Regions from separate parts of the Homo sapiens genome. Here region 2 is linked to region 1. A link means that fine-mapping ties the variant in region 1 to the expression of a gene that starts in the linked region. Tissue or cell type: lung. Region 1 holds a variant in brackets; the other region holds the start of a gene. All regions are shown on one strand. Distances are from middle to middle.

Region 1 (5,225 bases):
CTCCTGAATGAAGCACATATTTAATGCATAACGAAAAGCTAGGCAAGACTAACGAAAGCTACTTGAATTGTTCCATAGTCAAGTTGACAGTCCTGAATGTAAACTCAATGTTTGCTGAATAAATAATACCCATTAATACTTTTTCCCTCTTGATCTATATCAAGCATAGGGGAAACAAGTCATTTTAGAATTGAACAAGCGTTTTAGAATTGAAAATAGTATTTTCACAACACTTTTAAATTTTTTATACCATACATAACAGTTTACCCTTCCCCTCCCAAGTTTCTAGATATAGAAATAAATTCAACTTATTAATTCCATGAACTATTCAAATAAACTATTCAAACAGAAAAACAGGATAAAATGATTGCAGCTGACAATTTTTTTTTTTTTCGAGACATAGTTTCACTCTTGTTGCCCAGACTGGAGTGCAACGGCACCATCTTGGCTCACGGCAACCTCCACCTCCTGGGTTCAAGAAATTCTCCTGCCTCAGCCTCCTGAGTAGCTGGGATTGCAGGCGCCTGCCACCATGTCCGGCTAATTTTTGTATTTTTAGTGGAGACGGGGTTTCACCATGTTGGCCAGGCTGATCTTGAACTCCCGACCTCAGGTGATCCGCCCTCCTCCGCCTCCCAAAATGCTGGGACTATAGGCATGAGCCACCGCGCCTGTCCGACAATTTCATTTTCAGATACGTAATACTTTTTAATGTTTTTTCTCAGATGGAGTATACAATCTAGACTGTACTGTTTTTCTTTGCTTTTCTCATTTGGTTGCCTAAAAGACTGATGAAACAAGTTAATGGAGCACTATTTTCTCTTCGGTGTTATAGCTTAACCTAAAGAGCACTTATCTCAAGCCCAGAAAAGTTGTATTTTTTTATTCCTTGTACTCAAAAGTGTGAAATAAAACACAGCGGTTTATTATCACCAAAAAGGCAATATTTATTCATAATTAATATTTATCCACACACCCATTAACATTTACTAATTCTAGGTGATGGAAACACAGGTTTGTGTTTACGTAATTATTTTTAAAGTTCACTGGATATATATAAAATACACAGAGACAATAAATGTCAGGCTAATGTCCTAAAGTTTTCAGCTTGGTTAACTAGATGAGTGTTTCAAGTGTTGTTCCCTGACCAGCAGCAGAAGCATCACCTGGGAAATTAAATCTTGTGCCCCACCCCAGACCTACTCGATCAGAAATTCTGAGGATGAGTCCCAGCAATCTGTGTTTTAACAAACCCTCCAGTTAATTCTGATGCACACTTACGTTTGGGGACTAGCTGACAATTTAAAAGCTCTTGCTATTCATCAAGAACAGAAAACAAGAGAAGCAGGCAGGAGCAGAGGCGATCATAAGGACACGGTGCCTTAGTGCTTTATTAATTCACACTATTCATCAAGAACAGAAAACAAGAGAAGCAGGCAGGAGCAGAGGCGATCATAAGGACACGGTGCCTTAGTGCTTTATTAATTCACGCTATTCATCAAGAACAGAAAACAAGAGAAGCAGGCAGGAGCAGAGGCGATCATAAGGACACGGTGCCTTAGTGCTTTATTAATTCACCTTCTTTTCCTCTCCCCCTGCCCACATCCCCCAGGTGGTCACTGTGGTGTTTTTCATTCTTGTTATAAGAGACAGGGTCTCGCTCTGTCACCCAGGCTGGAGTGCAGTGACAGGATCAGGACTCACTGCAGCCTCAACCTCCTGGACTCCAGCAATCCTCCCACCTTAGCCTCCTGAGTAGCTGGGATTTGCAGGCACCTACCACTGTACCTGTCTAATTTTTCTTCTGCCCTTTTTTTTTTTTTTTTTTTTTTTTTGGGGTAGAGACGAGGCCTTGCTATGTAGCCCTTGCTGGTCTCAAACTCCTCGCCTCAAGTGATCCTCCTGCCTCGGCCTCCCAAACCACTGGGATTACAGGCATGAGCCACCATGCCCAGCCAGTCTTCTTTATTTCTAATTATACCGAGATAAGTGTATTTTAGTATTCATGAATTTATGCTTCTTAGTCTAACTGCATTATATGCTTTTTAACCTCTAAATCCTCAACCCAGAATATACATTACGATTACCTTAGGAGAGTGTTTTAAAAATCCTGATGTCCAGGTTGTAGCCCACACCAATTAAATCGGGGGATGGGGGCTGACCAAAAGTATTTTAAAAATGCCCCAGATTCCAAGTGTGCAACAGTAGCTGAAAATCATGCAATCTAAGTGAAACTTTTTGTCTCTAGTTCAATATTTCTCCAAGTATGATGACAAAACTATCTG[T/C]ATCAGAATCGCTAGTAGTTCCCAAAATGATATTAAAAATAATCTTCAGAGTGGTACATATATGACTTTTTTTTTTGAGACTGAGTCTCACTCTGTTGCCAGGCTGGAGTGCAGTGGCACAATCTCGGCTCACTGCAACTTCCGCCTCCCGGGTTCAAGCGATTCTCCTGCCTCAGCCTCTCTAGTAGCTGGGACTACAGGAACGCGCCACCACGCTCAGCTAATTTTTGCATTTTTTTGTAGAGATGGGGTTTCACCATGTTGGCCAGGATGGTCTCGATTCCTTCACCTCGTGATCAACCCGCCTCGGCCTCCCAAAGTGCTCGGCCTGACCTTTTTCTTAATAGTTATGTATTTACACTTTCATTTTTTATTTTTTGGCAAATGTTTTCCACGTGTAGTAGTGACAGTTTCATTTTAAAATAAGATTCAGTTTTTTAAAATGAGTCAATTTTTTAAATTACTAAATAAATAGAACAAAGAATAGGGAAAACACTGAATAGATGGTAAGCAAACAAAAAAGGTTCAGTTAACCTTCACAAATACAGATTCCTGAGCCTTCCCCCAGCAGTCCTAAACCAGAAACTTTGGGAGGGATCCAGAAATTTTAACAAGTGCTCACAGGTGATTCACATATAGTAAAGCTCATAGTGCTGTAATAAAGAAAATGCTCTAATAAAGAAAAATTGAGCCTTCTGCCACTAAGCAAAGAACAAGTTTGGGTGTAAAAGGGAACCTCTCATTCTATCCTGTTTGCTACCACCACTTCCCTGTCTCACACCTCCTGGGTCAGGAAGAAGTACAGTTTCTGCTTCAAGTCTTAGATCTTATCCTGACGTCCTGTTCCATCCTTTCTTTTTTGGCCAAGTCCCAAAATCCAGGGCTGATCATTTTGCTCTCTTCTCAGCCCTCTCGTTCTCCTTAATGCCATCACAGAACGGGTATCCCCACCCCAGGAGGTTGTGGAACAACCTCTTGTCCCACATCCATTTGCTTTTCCAGCTACCCTCTGAAGGCAATTCTTTTAAAATGTCATTGGCCGGGCGCAGTGGCTCACGCCTGTAATCCCAGCACTTTGGGAGGCCGAGGCGGGCGGATCACCTGAGGTCAGGAGTTTGAGACCAGCCTGGCCAACATGGTAAAACCCTGTCTCTACTAAAAATACAAAATTAGCCGGGCATGGTGGCACATGCCTGTAAATCAGGAGGCTGAGACAGGAGAATCGCTTGAACCCGGGAGGTGGAGGTTGCAGTGAGCTGAGATCGTACCATTGCACTCCAGCCTGGGCAACAAGAGTGAGACTCCATCTTAAAAAAAAAAAAAAAAAAAAAAGATCACAAAACACTGGTAAATCATCCGATGTTACTTGTCATTTGTCCTTTCAAATTCCAATGATAACCAACCTCTATCCATTCAAACTGCAAATTGTTTATATATTGTGGCATGGTTAGAAAATCCCCTCACTAGACTGAGGATGGCAAATACATTTCAGTTCACACTACCAACTCTTATCCATTTGTAGTAGCCAGTGGTTCTCAACCAACCTTGACTTCACATTAGAATGACCTGGGGAGATTTTTTAAATCTCCACAGCAAGACCACCCCCAAGCCCAATCAAATCAAATTATCTGAGGGTTTGGGTGAGACTCAGGCATCAGGTTTTGGTTTGTTTGTTTTTTAAGTTTCTCAGTGATACCAATATGCAGCCAAGGTTGAGAATCACTGATCTGGGTTCAGCTAGAGATGTTGTCAAGAGAGATTTAGAGATGATCTGCCATGAGCAGGCAACGTTTTTGCCAATCCTGCACTATTCACTCAGGCAAGTACAGCAGACTCTGACAGAACAGTGACTTCTGAGGACAGAAATGTCAAATTCCAGTATCAATGACGGTAATGCGCAAATATTTGTTTACATTTATCTTGGGGTGTTTCTTGACAAAAACATAAAAAAACAATTTGCTTACTCTGGCCTGCCAGGTTTTTTTAAAAAACCAAACACCATACTTCCAAATATGCACAGTAGCTTTATGAAATTAAGCTGTCTCAGATACTTATAATTTTCAAGAAGGCCTAAGATGGTGAAATTTATAACTTATTTAGCTGAATCTACTCAAGGGGAGATCCGAAGCAAGAGAGTTAAAATAGACAAACACTACTGTCTATAGGTACCACAAAGCATATGCAATCACAAGTTCAATACCACACATCACAAACAATTCCAACTGTTTCTGTGATCAGAAGTCTCTGTGATACAGATCCCTTTCGTAATTATATTATACTAGTGCAATTAGAGCTACTCATTCAATGTCTTGCACAGACTATAAATCTTTGAGTATGTGAAATTCAGATTTAAAAATCTATTTTGTAATAAATTTGCCACCAAAAAATTTTTATAATACAACATTAAGGGAAAAGCATATTCTAAAAAGTAATAAAATTTAGCTTTACTCTTGATGTGACAGAGAAATAATGTTTAATTTTAGGAAGCACAATTTTTCTAATAAATGAACACTTGGCACAAAGTATCGCAATTGTATCCACTTCCTGCCATAAATGCCAGCAGCAAGTACCTCCTGTTTCAAGATCCTCTGAAGCCAATGAGTGGGCAGAACACAACCAGAGCCAAAATGGGGAACACATGGTATTCGCTCTTTGAAAAAAATCAGCAGTGGATTACAACCAGGAGGGGAAGCCATCTGTCACAAGAAAAAGAGGTGGCAGGAGCTGTAACATGCCATCTCAACCTGCACAGTCACATTTTAGATTTTAACCCTTGTAATGAACGATAGGTTTCAAAATTATGAGTGTCAAGGTTATGGATGGAATGGGAAGAGGAAGAAAAACCACTAACACTGTAATTCTACTAATACCATAACCCTATCCCATACTGGGAAGAGCAACAACATAGCAGCAAACAGAAACCAAACAAATGCAAAAACA
Region 2 (5,225 bases), 60 kb after region 1:
CAAGGATATCACAAGTAATGACTAGCAAGCAACATTTTTTGAAAAATAAAATGTAGGCATAATTTCAGGCACAAGAAATGCTAAACGAAATAGCTTACTTTTACCTTAAGACTTTCCCCAAATTATGTGATTTCATTCCTACAAGGACAAGAATCACAGCTTACTACCAGCCATGCAAATGTCATTTTAGGAGTACACACAAGTTTTACCCAGTATCTTAGTTCACATTTGTCCCAATTAATTAAGTCTATGTATAATTTAAAAGCGAAAACTAGATATGTCAATTTTGTTTTCCTTCTAACTAATCCAAAGTCAAAACTGTTCACTTTACCAAATGAATTAACTGAATACAGTTAATTAAATCTTTTATTTATAATTAAAAATTGGAACACACACTTTCTCACTTAATACCTATTATGTCCTGTTTCCCATACCTCTCTATAAAGTAGAAGTATTTGCTGGAAGACAATAATCTGCTCATTAAGTAGGCACTTAGAAAAAGCAACGATCTGCAACTACTGAAATTCTTATCTGTATATTTCTCTTTTGGGTTACAAGAAAGCACTTCTCTGGCTATTTTCCCAAATAAACTAGGCAAGCCTTGGGAAAGTCACTGCTTAAATCCCACTTTCTGACAGCTTCTCTTCCTCCATAAATGAATTATTGAGAGCCATGTCTACTTCCATCCATTACATAATACATGTCCATCATGGGACCTGTTTTCTGAACAAGAAATAGCTTAAATGACACTAACTGATAAGTAGGGCCAGAGAATACTGTAATCTAACAGGGAGCAAGAATCCAGAAAAGAAGATTCTGATTTACAGTGCTAAGTTGTGAAAGAGTGATGTGAAGAACATTGAACACTGCTTACTCTAATATTTCCATACAAAGTGACACACCTGCCCCCAAAATGTTTTTAAAGCACTTGACTCCAAGAACATTTCTCAGAAATTGAGGAGCCTACCAAAAAAAAAGAGTTCCATTTCATTTTAAAGTGTTTTAATAAAGACTGCAAGAAACATAACTGCAAATGAGAAATAAAATTTCAACAATTTAGCACTGAACACAAAATGTCTAAAAGTCAAGGTGTACTGAGCAAGCAACACGCTATAAAAGACGGTTGTACTTTAAAACATTTAAGCATTTTTCATATAATTAGCTCCAACAGAACTATTCCAATTGTTCACTTTATCCACCCAAAGCAGTCAACCACAACCACCTGCAACTATTATTCAGCAATGTGCCTTCCAAAGCAACCACCTGAGTTTGGGGCCTTCTCTCAAGGGGCCAGGATAAAGCCTGTAAAAGGGTGGTATAAAGAGATCTTTTAGGCATTGGGGGGAAAAAAAACTGGAAGACACCACCTTGAAGGAGCTAAGCGTAATGCGACCCAAATGGTGGCTGCCGGAACGAAGTTGTCTAAACCGAAGATCTCCCTCTTCTTCGGTGTAAAACTTTCAGATACATCCACGCTCACAATTTACCTGAGCCAAAGTAAGGGGATTCTCTTCCCTCTCCGACCCCCCACCCACCCCGCCAGAAGAAAAAGAATCGAACCCTAAAGTAGAAACGTGAGATCTAGTGCAATAAAATAGGTTCTGCAACTGCCTCAAAGGCAACATGCACAGCTCATCGTCCTTTTGAAATACACTTCATCTTTTATCTCACCATTTCATCGAAAAGAAAAGAATCATCTTCAGCATTTTACATCACTCACCTAACCCAAAGATCCACCCTGACCGCACCCCAACCTCATGGCTCCCCAATTTCTCCGTCTCCCCACTACCTCGTCCGCGGCTTCACTAGTCCTAAGCCTCCCCCCCTCCGCTCCCCAAGTGCCCAGAGCCCCAGTCCCCACTCCCCCACCTCCCGCCCCAGGATCCCCACATCTACCGCCTCGGCTCCCGCCCGATCCCGGAGCCCGGCTGGGTGGAGCCCGCGGGTGGGCGCCGGTGGTCTGGGTGGGGCCCGCCCCTCCCCACCCCCCGGGCTGCCGAGGAGGGGGAGGGGGTCGCGAAGCCTCACCTACAGCTCCGCCCCTCCCCGGGGGCGCGTTGCCCTGCCCAGCCCAGCCCGGGCCGTGAGCAAGAAGCTGGGTAGGAAAGGCGAAAGCCTCAGCACTAGCGACAGGGGGGAAGCTCTGGGTCCCGCGCGACTTCCGCGCTGTCGCCGCCGCCGCGGCCGTCTCACCGTCCTCAGGGCTGCCGCTACTGCTGCTGCTGCCGCCCAGGCACCGCCGCCGCCGCCACTACCGCCGCCGCCGCCGCCACAGCACGGCCCAGGCGCCCGCGACGTCACCGCGCCCCGCCCCCTGCGCGAGACACCTAGCCCCGCCCCCAGCCCCGCCGCGGGGCGCAGCGCGCCTCCCCGGGCTCCCGGCTCGGCTGCCTCCCTTTCCCTCAGCCTCCCGGGAGCGTGACGCGGCGGCCCGGGGGCCTCCGGGCGCCTTCCGGGGCACGCGGGTGAGGAACTGGGAAGCGGGGGAAATCGGCGCCACGGCGGTCGATTAGCACCGAAACAGAGTGATGGGCGCGGAGCGTCCCTGCACACACACACACACTCACACACACACACACACGACCCCTGCGGCCACGGGAGGGGAGAGCCGGGGTCGGCTCCGCGAGCGCAGGGTGGCGCTTGTCTCCTCCTGCTTGCCGTAGGAAGTGGACGCTGGAAGCCCGAGGAGCCGCTTCGTGTCTTCCCAAACCTAAGCGGCGCCCCACCCCCTACTTCTCGTGGCCCGTTACGCCCGGGGCAGCCAAGCGCCGCGGGAGCAGCGCCGGGATCGACCCTGGCTGCTGGGGGGACGCTTTGTCCCAAGAAAGCTGGTTTTTTGCCCCTTAGCTTCGTGGAACGCGGCCGCGAAATTAGTGGTCTTCTGACCTGAGACTCGCGGGGCTGCGCACACGGGCATCGCCGAGGACCCCAGCAATGGACGTCGTGTCTGTGGTGATCCCGCCAGGACGCGGGGAGCGTGGGCGGAAATTAGTGTCCACGTTCCGACCCTGCGCTGTGCCAAACGCTGCTTCGGGAGCTGTTTATTTAGCCTCCGACAGCTAAGCGAATCGGCGGGCGGCTGGGGCCTGGTGCAACCCGATTTTCTCGTGCAGACTCGCAGCCGGCTTTGGTTTTGTTTTTTGTTTTTTGTTTTTTTTTTGGAGCCATGCAGAGGGTAGCTACAGCCATTAATTTAAGGATGTAGATAAGCTATCTCTAAACCAAGAAAGTAAGAATGGTGTGAATTATATTTATTCCCAGCCTTCCAGTGTTTATTAAAATAATTTTCGGTGTCCTTGAGAGGAGTTAAAAGCCATCATTTTACTCCTGCTTACCTCCGCCACCGTAATTAACCACTTTATACTGCCTCATAATCCCATTAACAAATTGCAGTCGCTCCTCAGCCTTCACATTCATTCACTCACCAGTTTCTACTGTTTCATCCTGCCCGGACTCTTAACTGTTCCCTCCCAGGATCGACATGCACTTGGATCATTGCAGTTTCTGGGCCTGCTGTCATCTCCCCCTTCAGTACTTCCCACATATGACTACCAACTGTTAGACGATGTGCTGCTGCCAGACCAGCCTTTCATTTCTTGGACATCCGGCTATTTACCCAGGAAAAGTCATCCTTTGACTATTTTTCATGACCTTTCTCATCTGACTCGTGATCTGCCCATCTTGTTACTCCCTAGCAGTGTGGTAAGGTAAGAGAAAATTCAACTAGGAGTCAATAGATATTTCTGTTCTCATTCTCCCACTGTCTACTTGTGTGGCCTCAGGCAATTCATTCTACTTGTGGTCTTACTTAACTGTAAAGTGAGGTTTGAAGTAGGTGTCTGAGATACATCATGTCCTTAAAATATGTGGATCTGGAGAATTAAGTTGCTAAGCGCTATGTTATACACGGAAATACTGTCCTAACACAGATTCAGATTTTTGTTTTTTATTTTTTGCCACCACACTGGCAAAAAATATTATTTCCTGCCCTGCTCCAGTTATCTTTTTTAAAACCTACGTTTAGGATTTTTGATTAAAGCTAGCTAACCGAGCACATGTATTTACTGTCTCTTCTTCCTGAGACCCCATAAAATGATGATAAATAAAAGTGATACAAAATAGAAAATGAGAAGGGGGACATCGGAAGATAATTTTTTTTTATTTGACATGCAAAAAGTAAGTGTGGTCTGACAAAATAAAATGGAGAAAAGCATAATGTAGAATGGGTGTAGAGGGTGCTGTAGAAAGGAAGGGGACCTGTCAGCCCAGAAGTGCTTTAGGGAGACGGAGATTTGGAGATAACTACCAGACAGAGCAAGAGTGAGAAGCAGAGTTGAGACCAGGGAGACTAAATAAAGGTCTATATAAGGAAGAGCAGAACCCTCCCTATATCTCAGATACAATATCTAGGCATTTATCCAGGCTAAAATTAAGCACTCTGATAATCTGGGGAGATTTGGGTTAACTGAGTATTGAAGGGCCTAAGAGTAAAGTATTCTTTATTCTAGCACAATAGCTGGTTTCCTACCCACCCACTTTAAAGTGTAGTTGGGCAAGTTGGCAGGAACTTCCTGCTATGGTTTGGATATGGTTTTTTTGTCTCTACCAAATCTCATGTTGAAATTTGATTCCCAGTGTGATAGTATTGGGAGGTGGGTCCTGATGGGAGGTGTTTGGGTCATGGGGGCAGATTCTTCATGAAGGACGTGGTGTCATTCTTACAGTAGTGAGTTCTCACACTTGCGAAACTATGTTGGTTATCAGGAGAATGGATTTGTTCCTTGGAGAGTGGTTTGTTGTAAAGCCAGGACTCACCTCGGGTTTGATTTCTCTTTGCATGTGCACAGACACTTTTCCTTGACCTTCTCCGCCATGTCTTGATGCAGCACAAAAACCCTCACCAGAACTGAGCAGATGCTAGTGCCTTGCTTCCTGTACAGCCTGCAGAATTGTGAGCTAAACAAACCCGTTTTCTTTATAAATTACCCAGCTGCAGGCATGCCTTTATAGCAACATAAAATAGACTAAGACACCTCCCAAGTTCACAAGACTCCCCATCAGCATTCCAACTGCCTCATACGTATGAACAGACAACTAAGTGTTATTAGGTATTTAAGAAAAGTCTCCAACATGGACTGTGGGGGCAGATAAACAGAAACTTCAGAGAATTTAGAAAGGAAAACCTAATTAGTATACTAGGATACTCAGATGAAGTAACAATCCAA

Evidence for each region. PIP is the estimated chance that this variant, and not a neighbour inherited with it, causes the effect.
Region 2: it holds the start of ERC1, and the variant in region 1 is fine-mapped to the expression of ERC1 in lung (TOPMed, PIP above 0.99). The same link has a PIP of 0.9 or more in monocytes.

Annotation. Positions count from the first base shown.
Region 1 is chr12:1,048,140-1,053,364 of GRCh38, reverse strand. All of the region lies in intron 2 of ERC1 (ELKS/RAB6-interacting/CAST family member 1), which reads right to left. Among named protein-coding and RNA genes, the nearest start is that of ERC1, 60 kb to the right of the region's middle. The variant T/C (reference allele first, on the strand shown) is at 2,286.
Region 2 is chr12:988,291-993,515 of GRCh38, reverse strand. ERC1 (ELKS/RAB6-interacting/CAST family member 1) reads right to left here and starts at 2,293. Exons shown (of 19, transcript NM_178040.4): 1 at 2,194-2,293. It also overlaps a transcript of RAD52 not described here. RefSeq lists silencers at 1,479-1,773, 1,979-2,488, 2,509-2,618, 3,029-3,078 and enhancers at 1,777-2,338, 2,900-3,462.